4 linked regions of the Homo sapiens genome follow. The protein of the gene in region 1 interacts with the protein of each later gene in a biochemical or structural test. Each region holds a gene or a part of one and is shown in the gene's direction. Other genes may lie near its edges.

The links.
Region 2: the proteins of ARHGAP5 (region 1) and RND1 form a complex in vitro, tested with the Homo sapiens proteins (one study listed by BioGRID).
Region 3: the proteins of ARHGAP5 (region 1) and RND2 form a complex in vitro, tested with the Homo sapiens proteins (one study listed by BioGRID).
Region 4: the proteins of ARHGAP5 (region 1) and RND3 form a complex in vitro, tested with the Homo sapiens proteins (one study listed by BioGRID).

The regions. Positions count from the first base shown.
Region 1 is NC_000014.9:32,157,266-32,160,235, forward strand, and holds the end of ARHGAP5 (rho GTPase-activating protein 5), read left to right. Parts: 3' UTR 1-2,463; downstream 2,464-2,970. UniProt on the Homo sapiens protein: GTPase-activating protein for Rho family members.
Region 2 is NC_000012.12:48,862,847-48,870,448, reverse strand, and holds the start of RND1 (rho-related GTP-binding protein Rho6 precursor), read left to right. Parts: upstream 1-4,578; 5' UTR 4,579-4,681; coding exon 4,682-4,801; intron 4,802-5,578; coding exon 5,579-5,666; intron 5,667-7,602. UniProt on the Homo sapiens protein: Lacks intrinsic GTPase activity. Has a low affinity for GDP, and constitutively binds GTP. Controls rearrangements of the actin cytoskeleton. Induces the Rac-dependent neuritic process formation in part by disruption of the cortical actin filaments.
Region 3 is NC_000017.11:43,028,194-43,032,549, forward strand, and holds the end of RND2 (rho-related GTP-binding protein RhoN), read left to right. Parts: coding exon 1-2; intron 3-238; coding exon 239-487; 3' UTR 488-896; coding exon of another isoform or gene 897-921; 3' UTR 922-3,848; downstream 3,849-4,356.
Region 4 is NC_000002.12:150,470,656-150,477,700, reverse strand, and holds part of RND3 (rho-related GTP-binding protein RhoE precursor), read left to right. Parts: intron 1-2,716; coding exon 2,717-2,826; intron 2,827-5,939; coding exon 5,940-6,074; intron 6,075-7,045. UniProt on the Homo sapiens protein: Binds GTP but lacks intrinsic GTPase activity and is resistant to Rho-specific GTPase-activating proteins.

The DNA.
Region 1 (2,970 bases):
ATGCTTTTAAATATTAGAAACATCTAAGAACAGAATAACATAATTAAACTTTTTTCTGGTAAGTTACTGGAAGGTTTCACTGTTTAGGGACCTATCATATGAGACTTCTTAAAGGATTAAAAGAATAGGATAGTCTCATAATTGTGAGTAAACATCAAGGCATTATATTTTACAATACTGAATAAAATTTCATCTACACACATGTTGCCATTGTTTCATTTAAGGTTCAGTGCTTATAGTTAACTACAATATTGGACCTAACAGGATCTAGATTAGCAATATAAAGAAGCATAGTGGTACTCTGTTTCACACTTTCAGTAGATTTATTAGAAGTCAAATTCTATTCAACAGACACTTATTAGGATATACAACTAATTTAAGAATAAAATTCCAGGCACAATATATTTTTTTTAAATGGTATTTGTTAGTAGTGCTTCTTCCCCTTAACATTTACAGTGTAAATACTGCAGGTAACCGCAATCTAAGTTAGCCAAAAAGCAGCTTTTTTTCCCATACTGTATGTAAATAATGTAGACCTGGGTTTTTTTGTTTATTTGGGTTTGTTTTTTTTTTTGAGGTACTGGAATCTAATTAATATCTCTTAGGTATCAACAAAAGGGAACAATTGGAATGAGAATTTAGGCCTTAGCTTCCATGGTGATTTTTAGTTTTTTATACAGTAATAATTGTGATGCTATTTGTCAACTGGATATAAATACACATATAATTTTAAAAAGTCAAAAGTGCTTTTGTTTCTTTGTTTAATGTAATTTTTGTGCTTCACCTACAGGATGCTGCAGTAAATTAAATATCAGTGAAGCTTCTGATGTATAAAGAATGCTATGAATAAAACATTAAGAAGCTGTGTAATTTTAAGTTATAGTTGCCTCTATTTTTACCATTTCATTGGTAAAAATTAGCTAATTTTTTTCAAGTGAAATGAAAAATAAAAATATAAATTTATCAATATGATGGAAATCTTATTAAGGAGATGTATTATTGAATTTTCACTGTACCTGAAAAGGAGATTCAAAATTTTTTCTGGGGATGTATATAGGTGAAAATTTGATTTTTTAAATTATCAGGAAAACAAGATAATGCACAGATTTCTAAGACTAAGATCTTACCTGGATGTGATTTTTGAGCTGTGGCTAGACATTCTTTAGAGCCACTGGAAATATTTTGAAAACTATTCTAGTTATAGCAGAGCTGCTAATATTAACGAATATATTTGTGTCTTCATGGTTTGTGACTATTAGGCCAAATTTTGTGGTATATGTTGTCAGTCTGGATCTGGTGAGGTCTGTTCAACATGAATCTTTGTGTTATCTTGAATTTAGTAGTTTCAAGGTACTTAAATTCTTAACAGTTTCTAATTTGTTTCAATACATATGGGACATGGTTGATTTTTTTACTGTATTAGAACTCTTGGAAGTTCTTAGCCTTTTCAGGTTATGAAATACCTGAAAGTAAAATTTTCTAAGATTTAATAAGGGAAGATACTATTCAAATCATTTTCTTAGGATAGCATCTTTACATACAATGAGAGGATTGTACAAGCATTAATCTCATATTCCAACATCCAGTTACTTGATGTGATCCAAGTACCCTGGTCTTTTTGAAGCAGTTAAAATCTAATTAATTAACTTTGGGAGTCTTCACTATTCAATTGATCCTCATCATTGTCCTATTTGCATGACTCCATTTTTTCCTCCACTATATGAGTTTTCTTTGTCAGGGGGAGAGGAGTGGGAAGAGTCACAGAATCTCATATTCACATCTTAATTAAATTGTGTGAAATTAGTCTTTTGTGGAAATTCTGTAGGCAGTATGATTTTGAAAAGCTAACCAATGATAATTAGCATTTTAGTTAATACTAAATGCATAAAATTATAACCCTTGAAATTAATTTGGTGCTGGCAGTTCTGGTTTAGTCATTTTTACCAGTAGTTAGTAGTATTAAGACCTGCAGTATATGCACTTTTTGAGTAGCTGTCAAATAATTGTAGTTGAGAAACAACTTGTTTATTCTCACAATTCAGATTTTCTATTCAGTTTTGTCTCAAATAGTAAGTTATTGTGAACAATTTAATAACGGCCCTCCTGTTCTAGTTTGCCTAATATTTTAGTTAAGATTTAGTGTTTTAACCTATTTTTTTAAGTTTATTTTTTGTATTAGATTTTATTTGAATAAGTTATGTGGGTTTAGTAATTGACCTATTTATTCATTGCTTCACTAATTCATCCAGATTAGTTTTAAGTGTGTATATGTATTTGCTCACCAGATCATTTTCTTGGGACCTTGAACTGTGAATGTTTTGTCCTAACCATTTAATATTTTCTAGGTACTTGCTGCAAGTTCTTGAACTATTTTACCAGCTTTAACTTTGGGGCTCTTAGTTTCTTTTCTCCAGATTCTTGTTATTTTATTTTATCCAAATAAATATTTAGGTGTTCTAAGAAGTAGACTTCTGTTTAATTCCGTAAAATAAGTAAAATCAGAAGCTGTACACACTATCATACTGTTATTATTTGGGATTGTTTATAAATGTAGGTGAAAGGATAAAAAATACCTATCTGAGAGAATACAGTCTTTAGATATCCTTCTTGGAAATTTGACTTAGAGATTTTTCATTTGTTGGCAGTCACAGGCATAGCTGCTGAATGTCTTTTGGTCTGTAATATTTGAAGTGAGAAACATTACCAGCAATGTACTTTTAAAATATAAACTAAAGCCAGGCATGATGGCTCATGCCTGTAATCCCAGCACTTTGGGAGGCTGAGGCAGGGACATCACTTGAGGTCAGGAGTTCGAGACCAGTCTGCCAATATGGCAAAACCACATCTACTAAAAATACGAAAGTTAGCCTGGCATGGTAGTAGGCGCCTGTAGCCCCAGCTACTCAGGAGGCTGAGGCATGAGAATTGCTTGAACCTTGGGGGGGCGGAGGTTGCAGTGAACCACAATCA
Region 2 (7,602 bases), on another chromosome or scaffold:
TTTTGTATTTTTAGTAGAGATGAGGTTTCACCATGTTGGCCAGGCTGGTCTCGAACTCCTGACCTCAAATGATCCACCCACCTTGGCCTCCCAAAGTGCTGGGATTATAGGTGTGAGCCACTGCGCCTGGCCCGGAAGAGCCACTTTAATGTATTAATCTGGCTACAGACTTTTATTTGATTTTTAAAGTTTTTTTGTAGAGATGGGGTCTCACTCTATTGCCTAAGCTGGTTTTGAACTCCTGGGCTCAAGTGATCCTCCCACCTCAGCCTCCCCAAATCCTGGGATTATAGGTGTGAGCCACAACACCTGGTCTTGGCTATGGAGTTTGAAATAAAGTTATTTAAAAGAGGTTTAAACAAATTTGGAGGAGAGAATCTAAGTGCTAAAATAATAATAATAATAATAACATCTAGGCCAACCACGCTGGCTCACGCCTGTTATCCCAGCATTTTGGGAGGCCAAGGTGGGTGGATCACCTGAGGTCACGAGTTCCAGACCAGCCTGACCAACATGGAGAAACCCCGTCTCTACTAAAAATACAAAAATTAGCTGGGTGTGATGGCACATGCCTGTAATCCCAGCTACTTGGGAGGCCGAGACAGGAGAATCGATTGAACCCGGGAGGGCGAGGTTGAGGTGAGCCAAGATCGTGCCATTGCACTCCAGCCTGGGCAACAAAAGCAAAACTCTATCTCAAAAAAATAAATAAATAAATAAACTAAATAACATCTAAAAACTTCTTCTCTAGTTAAATCCCTCACATTGCATTTAAGGAAATAGGCACCCAGAGAGGGAAGTAACTTACCCAAAGGCACACAGCTTGTTAAAGGCAGAGCGAGGTCCAAGGCCTAGACCTGCTGAACTTCAGTTCCATCCTTTTCCTGTTACCTCCCTGCCCACTGATCTAACACACACGCTTTCACACACATAACACCCTTTCCACCAAAACTCATAAACATATGACCCACAAAATATCCTTGGAGACACATCTTGGGCCTCAGCCATGGTGGAGGCTGCTCTGTATAATGGCTCGGGCCTTCTGCTACTTGACCCTGAAATGCAGCCACCCAGGGAAGAATCAGTGTTGGCACCAGCTCTCAGAATTTCTGTCTTGGAGGAGCTCAGGAATGGCAATGTTCTTAGAAGCCAGAAGAAGCTGTTTGCTTAGCAGGAACAATTTTTACTTATTCTGAAAGTTTATTTGGAGTGGTGGATGAATGGTGTGTGTAGGGGGAGGCTGGTAGAGAACATGGAGAGAAGGCTAACACCTGTGGGGTTGTGATTGGAGGGAACTCAGTTAAGGGTTAGGAGGATGTATGGGGGACTGGGTACGGTGGCTCATGCCTGTAATCCCAGCACTTTGGGAGGCCGAGGCAGGCGGATCACAAGGTCAAGAATTTGAGACCAGCCTGGCCAACATGGGGAAACGTCGTCTCTACTAAGAATACAAAAATTAGCTGGGCATCGTGGCACGTGCCTGTAATCCCAGCTACTCAGGAGGCTGAGGCAGGAGAATCGCTTGAACCCGGGAGACGGAGGTTGCAGTCAGCGGAGATTGTGCCACTGCACTCCAGCCTGAGCAACAGAGCAAGACTCTGTCTCGGAAAAAAAAAAAAAAAAAAAGAGGATGCATAGGAACTCTACTGATGCTTCCAGAACTAAGCCCAGATGAGACTGAAGGTAGGGGACAGGAGGATACAGAAGGAGAAGGTCAGGCTGAGGGAAAGGACTCCAGATTGAGGCAGTCTATGATCTTACAGCTGTTCCTGGAACTATCCCAAACCCCACTTATAGACAGCTCACAGAGGCTGTCAGGCTGCTGGAAAAGGGCAAGAAGAGGACAAATTCTATCCACAGAACATTATCTGAGGGTGGAGGATGAGGGGAGATAAAGGGCAGAAACCTTCAGAAAGCCTGGGAGAGACGGCAGCCAGCTAATGGTAACATCTGGCCTTTCCACCCTGAAGTTTCCCTCAGGCCATTCCCCATCCCTGGAAGTGAATGGAGCTTAGGACATGGGTGGAGAGCAGGTATAGGCCTTGGCCCCAGAGCCACGACGAGGTTTGACTGGAGGAACACTGGTTAGGCTGTATTCTCAAAACAACATCCACTCTCCTACTGCCTGTGGTGGGCACTAGAAATCTCATTCTTAGAGATCTGTCCCTTTGGGTCTGTGAAAGGCTTTCAAGCATCCTTTATCACAGGGAAACTATCCCTGGGTGGGGCAGCAACAACTGTGAATTAAGAGTAAAGCTCAGGCTGGGGCACAGTGGCTCACGCCTGTAACCCCAGCACTTTGGGAGGCCGAGGCAGGTGGATCACCTAAGGTTAGGAGTTTATGACCAGCCTGGCCAACATGGCGAAACCCCATCTCTACTCAAAATACAAAAATTAGCTGGGTGTGGTGGCAGGCACCTGTAATCCCAGCTACTCGGGAGGCTGAGGTAGGAGAATCGATTGAACCCGGCGGGCACAGTTTGCAGTGAGCCGAGATTGTGGCACTGCATTCCAGCCTGGGTGAAAGAGCAAGACTCTGTATAAAAAAAAAAAAAAAGTAAAGCTCAGATGAAACAAGGCCCAGGAGACACTGGGCTTGACAAGGGAAAGGGACTACTCTCAATTTTGCCCAAAGTTGGTCTTCCTTCAATCACAAATCTCCAGGAGCCCTTATTTGTACGGTCTTGATTCCTGGACAATCAGTGGTTTATTTAAGCTGTGGACAGCCCATAGTTCTGTCTAGTAGAGGCTCCCCAAAATACAGGGGCCCCATCAGTCAGGGCTGTTAAGAAGTTATGAAGCTCGGCTGGGCGCGGTGGCTCACGCCTGTAATCCCAGCACTTTGGGAGGCCGATGTGGGTGGATCACTTAAGGTCAGGAGTTTGAGACCAGCCTGACCAATATGGTGAAACCCTGTCTCTACTGAAAATACAAAAATTAGCCAGGCATGGTGACGTGCGCCTGTAGTCTCAGCTACTCGGGAGGCTGAGACAGGAGAATTGCTTGAACCCGGGAGGCAGAGGTTGCAGTGAACTGAGATCAAGCCACTGCACTCCAGCCCGGGTAACAGAGCGAGACTCCATCTCAAAAAAAAAAAAAAAAAAAATTTATGTAGTTCATCTCAACCTTAGATTGTCCTCCAGCTTCTAATCCCAAAATCCTGGGCCCAGTCTGGACTTTAACCAGGTGACACACATTAGTGCGTCAGTTTCAGTGGGCGTTAACATGGAACTGGACCTGTGCCTGATTCATCCAGGAAGCTGAGCCTAGGCCGCAGAACAAACACCCCTAAGCAGCTTCTGCTAGGCATGGGTGAGAGGCTGTCTGGCCAAACAGTGACTGTGTTTGCTTTGTCTTCTTCCTCTCTCCCACCCCCACTTGCCAGAGTCCCTCATTTCTCTCTGCCCATCACTGGGTCAGGTGCTGTGTGTTTTTTTTATGGATGACTCTAGAAAGTTTTCTCTTTCTCTTTCTCTCTCTCTGTCTTTGGTGGTGAAGGTGATTCTTGAAGAAGAGAAGGCTTTAAAAGGGGCACAGGCCGGGCACGGTGGCTGACGCCTATAATCCCAGCACTTTGGGAGGCCAAGGCGGGCGGATCGCCTGAGGTCGGGAGTTCGAGACCAGCCTGACCAACATGGAGAAACCCCGTCTCTACTAAAAATACAACATTAGCTGGGCATGGTGGTGCATGCCTGTAATCCCAGCTACTCGGGAGGCTGAGGCAGGAGAATCGCTTGAATCCGGGAGATGGAGGTTGCAGTGAGCTGAGATCGTGCCATTGCACTCCAGCCTGGGCAACAAGAGCGAAACTCCATCTCAAAATAAATAAATAAATAAATAAATAAATAAATAAATAAATAAATAAATAAATAAAAGAGGTACAGCAGGAGCTGATATTGGGAGGGGAAATAAAGGGAAGTAAGAACTGGTTTGGATGGGAATTAGAAAAAACAAAAAAGTCAGACATCAGGCCAGGCGCTGTGGCTCATGTCTGTAGTCCCAGCACTTTGGGAGGCTGAGACAGGCGGATTGCTTGAGCCCAGAAGTTCAAGACCAGCCTGGATAACATGGTGAGACCCCTGTCTCTATTTAAAACAAAAGATGTAAGGAAAAAAAAGAAAAAAAATGTCAGAGAAGTTCTGGGCCACCTCCCCCATCCCCTACTCCTCCAAAACACACACACACACACACACCTGTCTATAGTCTAAGCAGGTCCTGCTTTTGTAACCCACCCGGGACAGTCCCTGCAACTCCAGCCTGACCTCACTTCCTGCTTCCATAGCTAGTTTGTTTTTCTGACACTTATTGGTAGACACTCCAGATCATTTCATTTTGCTTCCAGTACCCTTTCCACTTCCTAATACAAATGCAAAACAACCTGGGAATCCCCTTTCAGGGGGAAACAACGGTGCAGCTTTAAGAGAAAGAGAAGGGAGGAAGGGGGCGCTGACTCAGATCCTCAGATCCATTGGCTGCTGGAGGGAATCCCACCTCAGGGATTGGGCGTAACAGAGTCCGCCTCCTCTTGTGATTGGCTCAGCCAGAAAAATAAAAGGCGGCTGTGCCGGCCTCCTCCTCAGTTGGAGGGAGGCAGGGAATCTGGCTTGATTGGCGTGCTGAGACGCACCTGGCGCAACCCTCCCTTCTGAATCGAAGTTCAAGTCCCGCGGACACTGCAACCATGAAGGAGAGACGGGCCCCCCAGCCAGTCGTGGCCAGATGTAAGCTCGTTCTGGTCGGGGACGTGCAGTGTGGGAAGACCGCGATGTTGCAAGTGTTAGCGAAGGATTGCTATCCAGAGGTGAGCTGCCCGCCCGCCCGCTGGCCGGCTTTTCTCCCTGCCTGCCCGCCTTGGGGTAGATTTCCACCTGCTCAGGAGACGTGGCTCCCCCAGCCCCAGCCCATCCTCAGCCGCTTTCTGAGGCTTTACCATCCTCAGCTGCTTTTTGGCTGGAGGACTGCCCTGCCTTAGCTTCCCCTGAGACCTGTTCCACTTCTGCCGCCCCGCTGGCTCCTCCTCACCTCTTCACCCAGAGGACCCATCAGATCCCCTCCACCTTCCTGCGTCCCTGGAGTCTGCTCTCAGGTGAGGGCACTGGAGGCATTTGAAAGTCTGGGGTTTCTTCTTGACGTAATCCCTGCCTATCCGCTCACCTGCTCCTCAAAGGCTCTATGCCTGTGCCTTCAGGCAGGCTTCTGCAGCCCCTCTGTTCACCTGGCCGGGAGGGGTTTGAGAGGAGATGAGCTAGGATTGGCTTTGGCCTGTGGCTCTCTCAAATTGGGAAACACAAATCTGGGGATGGGAGGAATCTGTGTGTGTGTGTGTCCCTGATCGCCTAGGATATGGGGGGCTTACCCCTGGTGTGGTGGTGTGGGGGGGTGTCATTCACATTTCTCACTGCTGCAGAGCAAAGTGCCTGGTCCTCCACAGTCCCTTCCCTCCTGCCCCAGGCATCTCCTCTGGTTTCTTGTCTCCTGTGACTTTACTGTCTCTCTGGTGAGTGCGTGTGTAGCCAGCACTAACCAGGGGATCTGAGGGTAGGGGTGCATGGGGTGAATGTTTCCTCTCTTTTCACAGACCTATGTGCCCACCGTGTTCGAAAATTACACAGCCTGTTTGGAGACAGAGGAACAGAGGGTGGAGCTTAGTCTCTGGGATACCTCAGGTAAGAATTCTGCTCCAAATACCCCTTTCCCACCCCTACTGGTCTGCTGTGTAGCTGCTGTCTTTTAGAAATTGTTTTCCCCTTTGGTGGGGAGAAGTGAAAAAAGAGGATCTGAAGACTCATTAGTTGTGGGGAGGGCTGACAGTTGGTGGACTCAGTTGCATGGTCCAAGGGTGCAGAGTGGGTGAACCCCAGGAGCCACTCTCTTCCCTGGGTCTGGTTCCACCCTTTAGAGGGCTGGGATGGTGAGGTGAAGGGACCCATGAATAGTCCTGGGGGTGGGCAGTAAAACAGGACTTCTCCATTTCCATTCCCTACCACCCAACATGCACGCGTACACACATGCACACACACGCGCGCGCGCGCACACACACACACACACACACACACACACACACCTTTTACTTCCCCAGAGCAAAGCCAAATAAGAGGCAAGAGGCAGTGCTGCTGGAGGCAGCGTGGTTGGGGCGGAGAGACAAGTCTGCTTTGGGGAAAGGTTGCTCAGACTCAGTTTTGTCTCCTGCATTCCATCTTGGGCCACTGCTGTCCTCCTGCCGCAGCTCAGCCCCACTCGTCACACCGCTGCAGCTCGGGGATGAAGCAATGCATCATCGATGTTTTGGAAGTTGGGGGAGATGGCTTAATATAGGGCATAGTCAGTTGTGAATAGTGGCCGGCAGGGCAGAGGGGAGGTTGGCTCTGACTGTTTTCCCTCTACTGGGGTGAGGTAGAATATGCCCTGTCTCTCTAGAATGTAGAAACAATGTTTTTCCAGCCTCTCAGCCCCAAGCCCTTAGTGCTAGGCTATCCTTTGCCTTGATTCTGACCCCTTCCCATTATCTCTTTACCCCAGACCTTTTTCAATAGACTGGCTCAGAGTCATAATTAAGGAGTAAAAGCCGGGAATAAGAGAAAGAAAATAAAATCCACCCCTCCCCAAAAATGCATATTCAGGCTGAGTTTAAAAAGGGACCGTAAATCACTAGGTGTTTCCTGCTACATATAATAAATATGCTGTCCTGCTCCTTCAACAGCTGTTGTTCCCATGCTCTAATTCTGAGGTCTGAAAAGATTGGGGCTAGGGAATGGTTAGACAGACAATGAGCCTTTCCTCCCCAAACAAAAATTCCCCAATCTGGTATGCTTTTCCCTGTTGCAGTTTCAGGGCTTGGGAGGCAGCGTTCTGGTTCTCCTGGGCTGTGCTATGCTGGCAAGATTGGGCTAGAATGCAGCTTGATGGCATGATGTATAATTTTTGGTTTTTCATCTGCTGTACCCTCCCACCTTCCAATCTTCCCAGAATCTTACTGCAGCTCATCTCTTTTCACTACCACCGCCCAAACGCCCTCCCCCCACCTCCTCCCTCCTTTGACAGTCAGAATGCAGCCCTCAAATCCCAAACCAGATCATGGAAAATCAGCAAGTGTAGTCTCTGTTCCCTGTGTCACACCCCCACCCCCAATTTCCGAAAGGATAAAGGCTGTCAGTTATTCTCAAACTCCCTCTTTCAGATTAGGTTCCCATAAGGAAGGAGGAAGTGGCCATGGTGTGTGGGATAGGGTTTCCCAATGTTGGGCTCAGGGTTGACCCTGTTCCCATTATTTACTTGCTAGTCTTAGGGGAGGGGGATTGCTTGGAGCCAAAATGGAGGCCTCCTCCCCTCCCCCTTCCCCAGTGCTGCAGTGCTTCCGCTCCTCAGTGCTGCAGTGGTAAGACCCCACCTCAGAAAGGGATGGAGGAGGCTTGCTGAAGGAGCAGGCAGCTATCCCAACTCCCCTGTATTCCTTTTTTTAATGACCAACATCCCCCCACCAGCTTGGATTCCCCCCAGTTTCCATGGCGATTGTGGTGCAGGGAGAGGGGCTGCTTGCTATTCTGAGCACGGATTGTCTGGGTTCCAAATCCGCTACTGCTCCTTCCCCAGGGTGGAGGGGGC
Region 3 (4,356 bases), on another chromosome or scaffold:
AGGTGGGACCCTTGACGTCTGACCTCATCCCAGCCTAGACCTGTCACCTCTGCCCCTTCAGTCTCTGATTTGAAAACACCTTACCTGGCTCATCCTTTGTTCTGGTCTGTGACCTCTGACCTGATCCCTTGACTGCCCCCAGCCTTGACATTCAACCCCAGCCCACAGCCTCCATGCCCCTTTCTAAGCTGCAGGCTAAGACCTATAACTTTCTCCCATGCACTCCTTCCTTTTCCAGGGCACTGTGCTGGCCAAGCAGGTGGGGGCTGTGTCCTATGTTGAGTGCTCCTCCCGGTCCTCTGAGCGCAGCGTCAGGGATGTCTTCCATGTGGCTACAGTGGCCTCCCTTGGCCGTGGCCATAGGCAGCTGCGCCGAACTGACTCACGCCGGGGAATGCAGCGATCCGCTCAGCTGTCAGGACGGCCAGACCGGGGGAATGAGGGCGAGATACACAAGGATCGAGCCAAAAGCTGCAACCTCATGTGAGGGGCTAGGAGAGGGCAGAGTGTGAAGAGGGGTGGTGAGGGACACAATTGTTCCCCTGCCTGCGCCCAGGCTTCCTGACCTCCTGATCCTGGCTGGGAAGTTAGGGCAGGCAGAGCGAGCAATTCTGGGCAGGGGAGCTGGAGGGCAGAAGGGTATCATCGTTTCTCATCTCCTCCTCCCTCCTCTTCTCCAGTGGATGTTGAGGGAGCTAACAGGGCTGGCATCTGGGGCATGAACTGGGATGGGGCAGGTGGGCGTTAGGGAAGCTGGTATCAAATGGTGACCTTGGTGGAGTCTCCTATGTGAAGAGTACCCTCCCTCTCCACCCCCAGTCCCCATATCCTGGTTCTGGCCCAAGGAAAATGTCCATTCTATGACCTTCTCTTTTCCTCTCCTCTCACTTCTGCAGCTATTCTCACACATCTAACCTCTAGGCAACATGCACTAAATTCAAAAGCAAGGAGAAGCCCTTGCCCCCCATCAGTCCACCAGCCCTAGAACCTCCCTTGCCTCAACAGTCACCTAATAAAGCCCACCTCCATGGAAAACGGCTGTGGCTTTAGTTTTGTTGCTTTTTAAAAAAATCAATCTACCAATCTTTAGCAGTAAGAGGGAAAGTTAGACCTCAGCTGGGGAACTTTCCTGTCCATGTCCACAGATAGAGCAGAGGACAAAGCCATAGGTTGGATCAGAAGTGTCCTTTTAGGAGTCAGAGTTGGGAGAAGGAGACATCCTGGGACTGTTCATCCTAGTTAATGAAGTGGGCAATTCTCAGGCCATTAGGGGGTTTTAGAGCAGACCGACATATAATTAGTCAGCATTTCTCAGCCCAGCCAGGCCTGCTGCTAGTGTGGGAGGGGTCCTGCTCACCATCTGTACCCCTGGCTTGGAGCCTGCTGGTACCCTGGGGGTTGTGGGGATAAGGAGGCATCAGGCCGGGCGCGCTGGCTCACGCCTGTAATCCCAGCACTTTGGGAGGCCGAGGTGGGCGGATCACAAGTTCAGGAGATCGAGACCATCCTGGCTAACACGGTGAAACCCCATCTCTACTAAAAATACAAAAAATTAGCCAGGCGCGGTGGCAGTGCCTGTAGTCCCAGCTGCTCGGGAGGCTGAGGCAGGAGAATGGTGTGAACCCGGGTGAACCTGGGAGGCGGAGCTTGCAGTGAGCCGAGATTGCGCCACTGCATTCTAGCCTGGATGACAGAGCAAGACTCTGTCTCCAAAAAAAAAAAAAAAAAAAAAAAAGAAGGCATCAAAAGCCTCCACATCACAGAAGCTACCCCTGTACAGCGTGAAGTTTCCTAAGAGGTCAGTAGTTTGATTCTGGGGTCTCCTTAGAGGCTCAGGCCAGGGACCTTTCTCTCCTCCCATGCTGAGTTTCATGATGGCTTTCAGGGGAGCATCAGCTGTTAGAGTCACCCCTACCCTGTCCCTTAAAGGAAAGACGGTGGAGAGGACGGCTGAGCGCCTGTTGTCAGGAAAGACAGTACTGGTCTGTTTTCTCGGGAGTCTGGTTTCAGATTGTCCTGTATTCCCTTCCTGGCTCTGGTCCCACTGGCCTCTTTTCGGTGACATTCTCCCCCAGGAACCATCCCTGGCCCTTCCCTCCCCCAGCCCTAGCCAGTTCTCCCAGACACACTGGAAGAGAACACTGACCTTACCCAACTATCTGCTGGGATCCCACCCAAATTTATAGCCCATTCCTCCCTCATTCATTCATTCAGCAAGTATGTACTGAACACCAACTGTGTGGCATACACTGGCTTGGGAGATTGCAAGGACCAGTCTCTAAGCTTTTGGAGGCCAGCCCAGTGTGGAAGAGAGGTACCTCAGGTGTGAGGGTGCCATGGCTGAGGGATATTTGTACATGTATGGGATGCTATGGGAGCTCCTTGCAGCCTGAGAAGCCAGTCCTGTGAGCCAGGTCCTGAGGGTTGAAGAGGAGTTTTCCGGGCAGGGAAGGGGTAGGAAAGGCACTCTGGGCAGAGGGTACAGCATGTGTAAACACGTGGAGATGAGAATGAGCATAGCACTGTTGGGGCTCCCATGGCAGGGAGAATAGAAGACAAGGCTAGGAAGGTACACTGAGGCTACTGCAGGGTCCACAGAGGAATCAGAATTTCATTCTGAGGATGAATGAAATCATCCTCAGAGGATGAAGCCACCAGGAATTTCAGGCAGAGAGTGAAGTGATCAGAGTTGTTTTTTGGATAGATGGTTATCTGGATGTGGTGTTGGAGCTGGGAGATTTGGCTCTGAGGTGTGTCATTTAAAATAATAGCTTCTCGGCAGTGGCTCACACCTATAATCCCAGCCAAGATTCCTCCTTTGGGAGGCCAAGCTGGGAGGATCGCTTGAGGCCAGGAGTTAGAGACTGCAGTGAGCTATGATCATGCCATTGTCTTCCAGCCTGAGTGTCAGAGTGAGACCCTGTCTCTAAAAAAAATTAAAAAATAAAAAATAAAAAATAGCTTCTCCTTTCCCTTATGCCAGGTTCCAGTCTTGAGAGGAAAGGAATCCCTACCCACCACTCCCTGGATCATCAGATATCCCTATCCCAACCTCTCCTATGGGACTAGTTCATCTCAGCCAGTCTCAAAGATTCTAGGATAACTTCAATGGCATTTGAAATTATCTAAGTGTGCTTGGATAACCACCCCCTCAAACTGAGACCTGGTTAGGGACTGACTCAAAGACCCTGAGTCCTCGGCTAAGGGTACAGGAGAGGGCAGGGGCTCCAGGCCCAGCTAGGTGGATCTCCATCTGTCTCTGAGGACTGACCCTTTCCCCACAAGGACCTGCCATAAAAATCGACTTGCGATTTTTAGCTGAGTGGCTTCTCTTTTCCACTTTGGACTTCTCAGTGTATAGCAGGTTCAAGCCTGCAACCACCAAAGTGCAGAGTGTGGAGTGTTTGTGCCCCCTCTTTCCTCCAACCTCCATATCCTGCCATGTGAGCTCAGGGAATGCAAATGCATTTAAATATCCATCTAAAGCAAACATAATTAGAAAAATCAATCAGCTGGAGGACCCCCCAAAGTTTAATACATTTTCAATACCACCAGGAATGGATTTTTGGTCCCTTTCTGCAGGTCTGGGTTGCCAGACGTTTTATTTCTGGGGAGGAGGGCTCTGGGCTGAGGAGCTCAGTGGGTGGGAGGAGGGAATGGGACTGTTGCTGATCCTCAAAGGCCTCTGTAGGATGGAGGGAGGGGACCTTACTCCCTTCCCCACCCCAGATGCAGGAGTCACCCAGCTTCCTTCTCTGCGCTGTTTCCTTCACAAATTAGACATTGGTTTGGGAAACAATGTAGCCTCGTTAAACATTTAATGAAATAAACAAATAATCACACTGTGATGGCTGCCAGAGTTTCTGTGTTTTTTTTTTTTTTTTTTTTTTTTTTTTGAGACGGAGTTTCACTCTGTCATTCAGGCTGGAGTGCAGTGGCACCATCTCGGCTCACTGCAACCTCTGCCTCCTGGGTTCAAGCGATTCTCCTGCCTCAGTCTCCTGAGTAGCTGGGACTACAGGCGCGCGCCACCATGCACAGCTAATTTTAGTGTTTTTTTTTTTTTTGAGACGGAGTTTCACTCTTATTGCCCAGGCTGGAGTGCACTGGCGCGATCTCGGCTCACGGCAACCTCACCTCCTGGGTTCAAGTGATTCTCCTGCCTCAGCTTCCTGAAGTAGCTGGGATTACAGCCATGTGCCACCATGCCCAGCTAATTTTGTATTTTTAGTAGAGATGGGGTTTCTCCATGTTGGTCAGGCTAGTCTTGAACTCCCGACCTAACGTGATCCACCCACCTCGGCCTCCCAAAGTGCTGGGATTACAGGCATGAGCCACCGTGCCCAGCCATTTTTG
Region 4 (7,045 bases), on another chromosome or scaffold:
AACTCCGTTTCATTTTAAAATCAGGCCAGAGTCTAAATTTTGCAGATATTTAGATATATGCACTAAGCACAGAAGCCAGCCCACTTGATTTTAGTAGGTAGCAGTCTCCAGCAGGTGACTCAGGGCTGAGCACAAAGCCAGATCTCCTTTGTGGCCATAAAATGGGTGGGGGACGGGAAACATAGTCCACAAAGGGGGGAGGGGTATTCCCAGCAGTCATGTGGTGGCCTGAATGTTGAAACCATTCCTCAGGATTTTCCTGGCAGTCTCAATTTTAATTAAACTCTTTTATCCTCTTTGTATTTCTTCAATCGCTTTTCCTAATTTTTTTATTTGGAAAAGATGGTCTCCATTGTCATAGAGCAGTATTACATCTGGAATTAGCAGTGAGTACTCTAACATCATACAAATCGTATCCTGAAAGGAGCTGGTAGGCACCTGGAACAGTTCTCTAAAGATACCAGGTCTGCTTGTACTGGAAGCTCTCCACAGGGAGAGAGTGGTTTTTCCTAATGTGAGTGATTTCTGGGAAAGGAGATCTCTGAAGCCTCGTTAGGTTTCTGACAATCCTAACTGTTGGCAGCTTTGCCTTCCTGGGTCTGGGATCAGGTTGTCTCTCGCGGACTTTGAGGAGTAGAGGAAACTCTCATTTATATGTCCAGTATTTGGAGCTCCACTCTATGATCTAGAATTTTCTGACTGCCTGTTTGGAAAGAGTCATTCAAATGTTTACAGCAGGTGCCGTGCTAGAGTTAGACTTTGGACACAGAAACAGGAAAGGTTCTAGTTGAGAAAGTGTGAACTTCTTAGAACTAATATGGAAATACTAATGTAGCCATAAATAGTGTTCAACCATCTCGTTTCTGATGCCTTTCGAATGTTCAAATGGGTGAACTATTTGTGAATTATTCTCTTCACCTCAGAGTACTTTCAGCGACTGAAAAGGCAGCCACAGCTTGTCATTTTCAGAGACGGCCTCATTCTAATATACCTTCATACTTAAAATGACTTGACTTTTTAAACTCTAAACGCTTTAAGCTTCTGGGAAATATCTTTCAGCTGTCAGCCTCTGCTCTACCAGGGTCCTGGTTCCAGATGTGGGTAGGCAGCTGCTGCAGCTCATGAACAGCTCTGACTTAATTCTCTATTTATTCACACTTTTCTTCCTGATTCTTGTAACATTCTTTTCTTCCTTGCTTAGCAGACACACGTGGCTTGAAGTTGTCACTCTCCATCGTAAAGGAGCTAGAGAAAAAGCTGCACTGTTGCCTGGGGTTCCATAGCAGATGCCAGGGACCCAGAGTGTACTGTGTGAATAGAGGGCGATGCCCCCTGACTATAGTGCCTTTTAGATCACAAGAACAGCCTCCAAGCAAATGTTGTTTTGATAGAAATATAAACAGTGACATTTTTTCTAAAGCTGCTTTTTAAGTCTCTCTTCCTGACTTTGCCTATTGAGGTTTTGATTTATCAAGGGACAACATGTCCTGTTTTTCTGCTCAAAATGGAAAGTGATGTCAAAATGAAATAGACTTTTAAAAAGAGTTTGGTGGTTTAGATTTTCTTTTTCTACTCTGGAGTCAGATACATACGTGTGTATATATTTGCCTAGTAAAATCATTTTCATGTGATGCTTGTGAAATGTCAGCATACGGAAAATGATTTCTTAAACAAGCGGCATTTGGCAGGCTGTATTTAGTTTTCTAGTCAATCATTTCATAACTATAGGCCTCATGTAATTGCCCATCCTTTGGAATTCTTAAAGAAATAGAAGAAACTTCCTTGATTGACTAGAGAGTTCTGTGGTTAAATTAATTGGCTGGTGCCTTGAACCTTTAGGGTACCCTGGACTTAATTCAGGTTAAGATCCTTAGATCATGCCTCAGTGTCACTCTCAGAGATGGGACTCTGTAAAAAAGCGACATGATCCTATACGACATTTATTACATTCTTGATTGTAACAGGAAGAAAATCTATATAGGGTTTGGCGATAAGTTAAAATAAGCAAGCTCAAAGGTCAATGGCCTATGTAAACTTACATCTTGGAGATGGGTAACACTGATGTGGTTTCTCTTTGCATAGTTGAACCCTTCCTCTTCCTCTCTCCCTCATTCACCCCTATCCTGCTGTCAGAATTGATCTTGAGTTTTGGTCTCTTTCCCAAGAAGTAGTTCAGTTTATGGTTCTTGCTACCACTCAGCTTTTAACAGCAGTAATACAACCATAATGCCCATAGTTAATACGTATTGATCCCTTACTAAAAGCCAGGCCCTGCCTGGGTTTACTTAATCTCAGGTATGTATGTTGTCAGCATCTTCATTTTATGAGTGAAGAATCAGAGGCACAGGGTCCTAAAGCTACCTTGCCCCCTCCCTTTTTAGTGGTGGAGGCAGGTTTACACACAAGACCACCTGGCCCCAGGTGCTTCCCTACTTCACCCAGGTAACTTCAGGCCCTAGTCTTTGAACCATACAGATTTCACTTAAGATCCTGGCCCTCTTCTTGAATTTATGTCAGACACATGTGAGGCTTCATTCATCATATATTTCTAAGCAGGCTTTTGTGTGTCTGTTTGAATTCTTTTCCAAGAATTAGGGGAAGTGGGAGTTGGGTCGTGATGTGACAGTCAAAGGACTTAGCCGGAAAGGGTAGAGTTAATGCATGACAGACAAGGGGACTCTCATCTGAAAATTTGTGTGTCTTTGTTTCTTCTCAGGTTCTCCTTACTATGACAATGTCCGCCCCCTCTCTTACCCTGATTCGGATGCTGTGCTGATTTGCTTTGACATCAGTAGACCAGAGACCCTGGACAGTGTCCTCAAAAAGGCAAGTGCTGGGAAATGATGACACACTTCAGTACTGGGTGATGTATAAATAGAAACGTGGGGTTTGTTGGGAAGCTCAAAGACTCTAATCAATTCCCTGCCTTACAATTTGTAATTAAACACTAGAAAGAACCCTTTCACACCAAAATGGGGTTTCCACTTTTTGATGATGAACTTGCTTGAAATTTTATTTCATGAAGCTCTGAAACAAAATACCTTTTAAGGGCCTTCATGTTTGTCCTTTGGGAGAAAAATGGTACAGCTAACAACAGTTATATTTGATTACTATCATATTCATGTGTTCCTTCCTTCTTTCAGTGACTCAACAGATTGCATCTTAGTTTACAGATTTACATTTGACCTCAAGTCAGATAGTGAAAGGAATGCAATAATGGCTATTTTAACAAAGAAGCTGTGTTTTAGTTATGGTGTTATTAGAAACAGAAATGGAACTAGTGTAGGAGGAATAGGGATGTGTCCAATGTGAATTGTCTGATGATCAGGTATCTGTCTAGTAATTATGACCAGGTATCTTTCTAGTAATATGGAAGCAGTGCTTGTAAACATGTTATATATTATAATGTACACATAGTTTATGGAGGCAAAGGTAAGTCAGGTTCCGTAGGAACCTAACTAAGGAAGCTATGGTTGGAAGGAACCAGGGGGAGATCAAGAGGAAGAGGACCTATTACAGGATGGGTCACAGGAACTAGGGAGGCCAGTGGGAGGAAGGGGCGTTTCTTGACCTTCAGCAGTTGAGACTCAGCCTCCAGGTAGTTGTAGAAGGCACATGCCGTGTTAGTCCATGGATCAGCATTTATTAGCCACTAGCTATTTTCTCAGCCCTGGCCTGTGTGCTGTGGGGTTTCAGAATCAGATCCTTGTTGGAGCACTCCCTCTCCTCCACACACTGGCTTCAACACCGGATGTGGCTGAGAGCAAGGCAGTGTCAACTGAGGGGTGACCCATGCAGCCCAGTCTGAGTATGGTATGGATTGAGAAAGACAAACATGCAGGTGTGGCTAGGTTGGTTTTGTTTTTTTCATTTTAATTTTTAGTGGAATTTATTTGTATTTTGTGTGTTTTTATTAGTTTACATTCCCCTATTATATTTGATTGCTTGGCTTGTGTGTCATTGTGAAATCAGGATTTGAAGTATAATAATCCTTCTGTCTCTACTAAATATTACAAACAGAGTTCAATAAAACTCTTAGTAGATCTCTTTCTTAATAGATCAAAGACTCTTTTTTCCTTTTTAGCTCCTTTCAATTTTGAGTAATACATATCTAACACAAATAATGCTAATGCTTGTCAAATCCAGGCAGGAATACACCTTTCCTGTCTTTAATGCTTGTAAACAATTGCTAGACATGCAGAGGGAGGCCAAAGTCATTACACAGCTGAAGAGCAACATAACAACATGTCTAGTTCTGTCTGGAGATAAAAGGGGTTGCTTATTTACTAGAGATTTTACTTGATGTAGTATCAGGCTATGCATAATTTATGATGAAAAGCCTTTCTCCTGTTTTATTTTGCTTTTGTCTTCTAAGACCAAATGAATAGTGACTTTGGGCTTATAGATATTAATGAGTATGTTTTACATTCCTGTGAGGTTTAAGGCTCATGATAACCCCTGCGGTTTGTCTTGATTAATGGAACCCTTTAAGTCCTTCACTATCAAAGAGGAGGTTAGAATGACTTGAAGTAGGGAGGATTTCTTTTTTTTTTTTTTCCAGTTCACCTTCCACTTCTAATGCCAGTGCCACCTAGCATGTGGTAGGTGTTCCTACATAATTCTGAAAGGAGTGAGGGAGAGAGGGAGAGAGGAAGGGAGGGAGGAAAGAAGGAAAGAAGGAAGGAAGGAAGGGAGGGAGGGAGGGAGGAAGGGAGGAATAAGTGGACAAAATGGGCTCTTATGGAAAGTATATTACTCCTTTGAATCCTCTGGTGTAGTTTGCACTAGAGTTCGTTACCCAAAGTACACCCCTAGATTTGGAGATGTCTCCTCTAGTGATCTTTTAAGTTATTCTTGCAGGATGTCCCTCTTATCTAGTGTTATACTTAATACATGACTTCATCACCCCCAGTATTCTGTGAATTTCCTTCCAGAAGACACAGCTATGTCTTAGTCATCATTGTCACTGCCACAGTACTTAGTAGAACACTTACATATTTGTGAATGTGGGTGGGAAGAGTCAGGCGCCACTTCCCCATCTCAGCCTCTCTAGGCCCTGCCCTCAAAGGCCAAAGATCTCCTGTGACCGCCCTGAACTCTTGACTCCCATGCTGTTGCAGAGCTCAAGCTTGAGGAAATGAAGCCACAAAAAGCTGCTTGCTTGTTCTTAAAGAGGACAGTTGGAATTCCAAGCCAGGCATTGCTGAAGGTTCTAATAATTCTTGTTAGATCATGAAACAACTAGACAAATTGGAATAGATTGAAATAGTTTTAAACTAACTTGAAGGCATATGAGCTACAGGACCAGCTGCCTTCCCGATGACCCAAGAGATGTTCCTTTGCAAATGTCATGGTCTGTGTTGATGCAACCATGTGAACAGAAACTCCTTCAAGGCAGGATGTTCTGTTTTATTAACTATCTCAGGTACTTAAAATAGAGCCTCAGCTCGTGGTGGCATGCTTCAGTGTTTCATGATGGGATCAGGGAATGCATACTTGTGCTAGTGTTGCCTCTGCCTTATCCCCAGCCTTCTAGTGAAGGAGGATCAGATCCACACATCGAAGGATGTGGTCACTTGTTAGGATATATAATTATTCTTAAGACACATTTATCTTTAAGAGACACACCAATAATTAAGACATTATTGAAGCTACCTTTGGACAACATCTACCAAGTCTCTTTCAGTAGCAACAGATGAGTCACAGAGAGGGAGAATCAATCATAATATACATAATTATTCTCTAATGCTTAAAAAGTAGTAAAACTTCACATCTGTTCAGGAGATAAATGCAAAGTTTGCTTCTTCATCTCAAGGGACACTCCATTTTTAACATCTTTTCTGAGTTTCATTCTAATGTCAGCCAGTGGAGAAATGGTTTTCATGATATGGATACCGTTACTTTGTTCATTTTTAATCTTTTTTTTTTTTCTTTCATAGTGGAAAGGTGAAATCCAGGAATTTTGTCCAAATACCAAAATGCTCTTGGTCGGCTGCAAGTCTGATCTGCGGACAGATGTTAGTACATTAGTAGAGCTCTCCAATCACAGGCAGACGCCAGTGTCCTATGACCAGGTATGTATGTTGCCCATGTGCAAAACTGGATTTTAGAAAGAGTGAAAGAAATGGACTATCACTCATAATAAATAAAATAAAAAGTAGCTGCTTTTCTAAAGGCTCACCCAGTGGTCAGTTGTGAAATTTAAAATGCTGTCATTTATTAGTGTAATTACATGATATTCGGGTACATAAACAGTTGATATGCTAACCTTGTATATTTCTGCACCTCCCAGTAGGTTTAAAGTTAAATAGGTTTAAGAGAGAATGTGGTCAAAATCAGTAATACTCTTTAAGAGGGGTAATCTGATTTTACAGTCGGCAGTACAATAATAAGGCTGTTGCCAGTAAAGTGGAACACTCCATAACACCATCTTTCAGAGAGTCTTCATTTCTGTAAGCATTTCCCCCAAGTATTTAGAAATGAGAATCAGTTTCAAAAGCTCATTCTCATAAAACCTACAACCAGATTCTAAAGAGAGTTCATGTTGAAATACCAAAATTTTATTAAGAATCATCATTTTAAATACCGCAGTCTTCTTAGTCTTCCATTTCTCATTAGCAAAAAATTTGGTATTTTAAATAAGTAGTTTTGGTTAATGTGCACATGCTTATTGTTGTGTACGTTGGTGGTATGGTTCACACTTAGAAATTACATATGTTGTGTTTCATAAAGTAACAGATGTTACAATAGTATTATTCCTTTCCTCAACGCATTTCGGCCCTAAGTAAGACACAATCACATACATTTCAAAATCGATTTTAAATTTCATTCATTGCCCCTGTTTTTGGTACAACCTAGTCACTAGTCTTGAATGCCATTTACCCTCAAGAAAAGAGAAATGAAGTGCACCATGAGGCGCTGGAACAGGTTCTCAAGGCCACATCGCCACGGCCAGAGCTGTGTGGAAAATGCAGAGTTTATGTTCATGACCTTCAGCTAACTTACTTCACTAGTAAGCTTCTCTGCGCCATTCCATGCTTGCTGT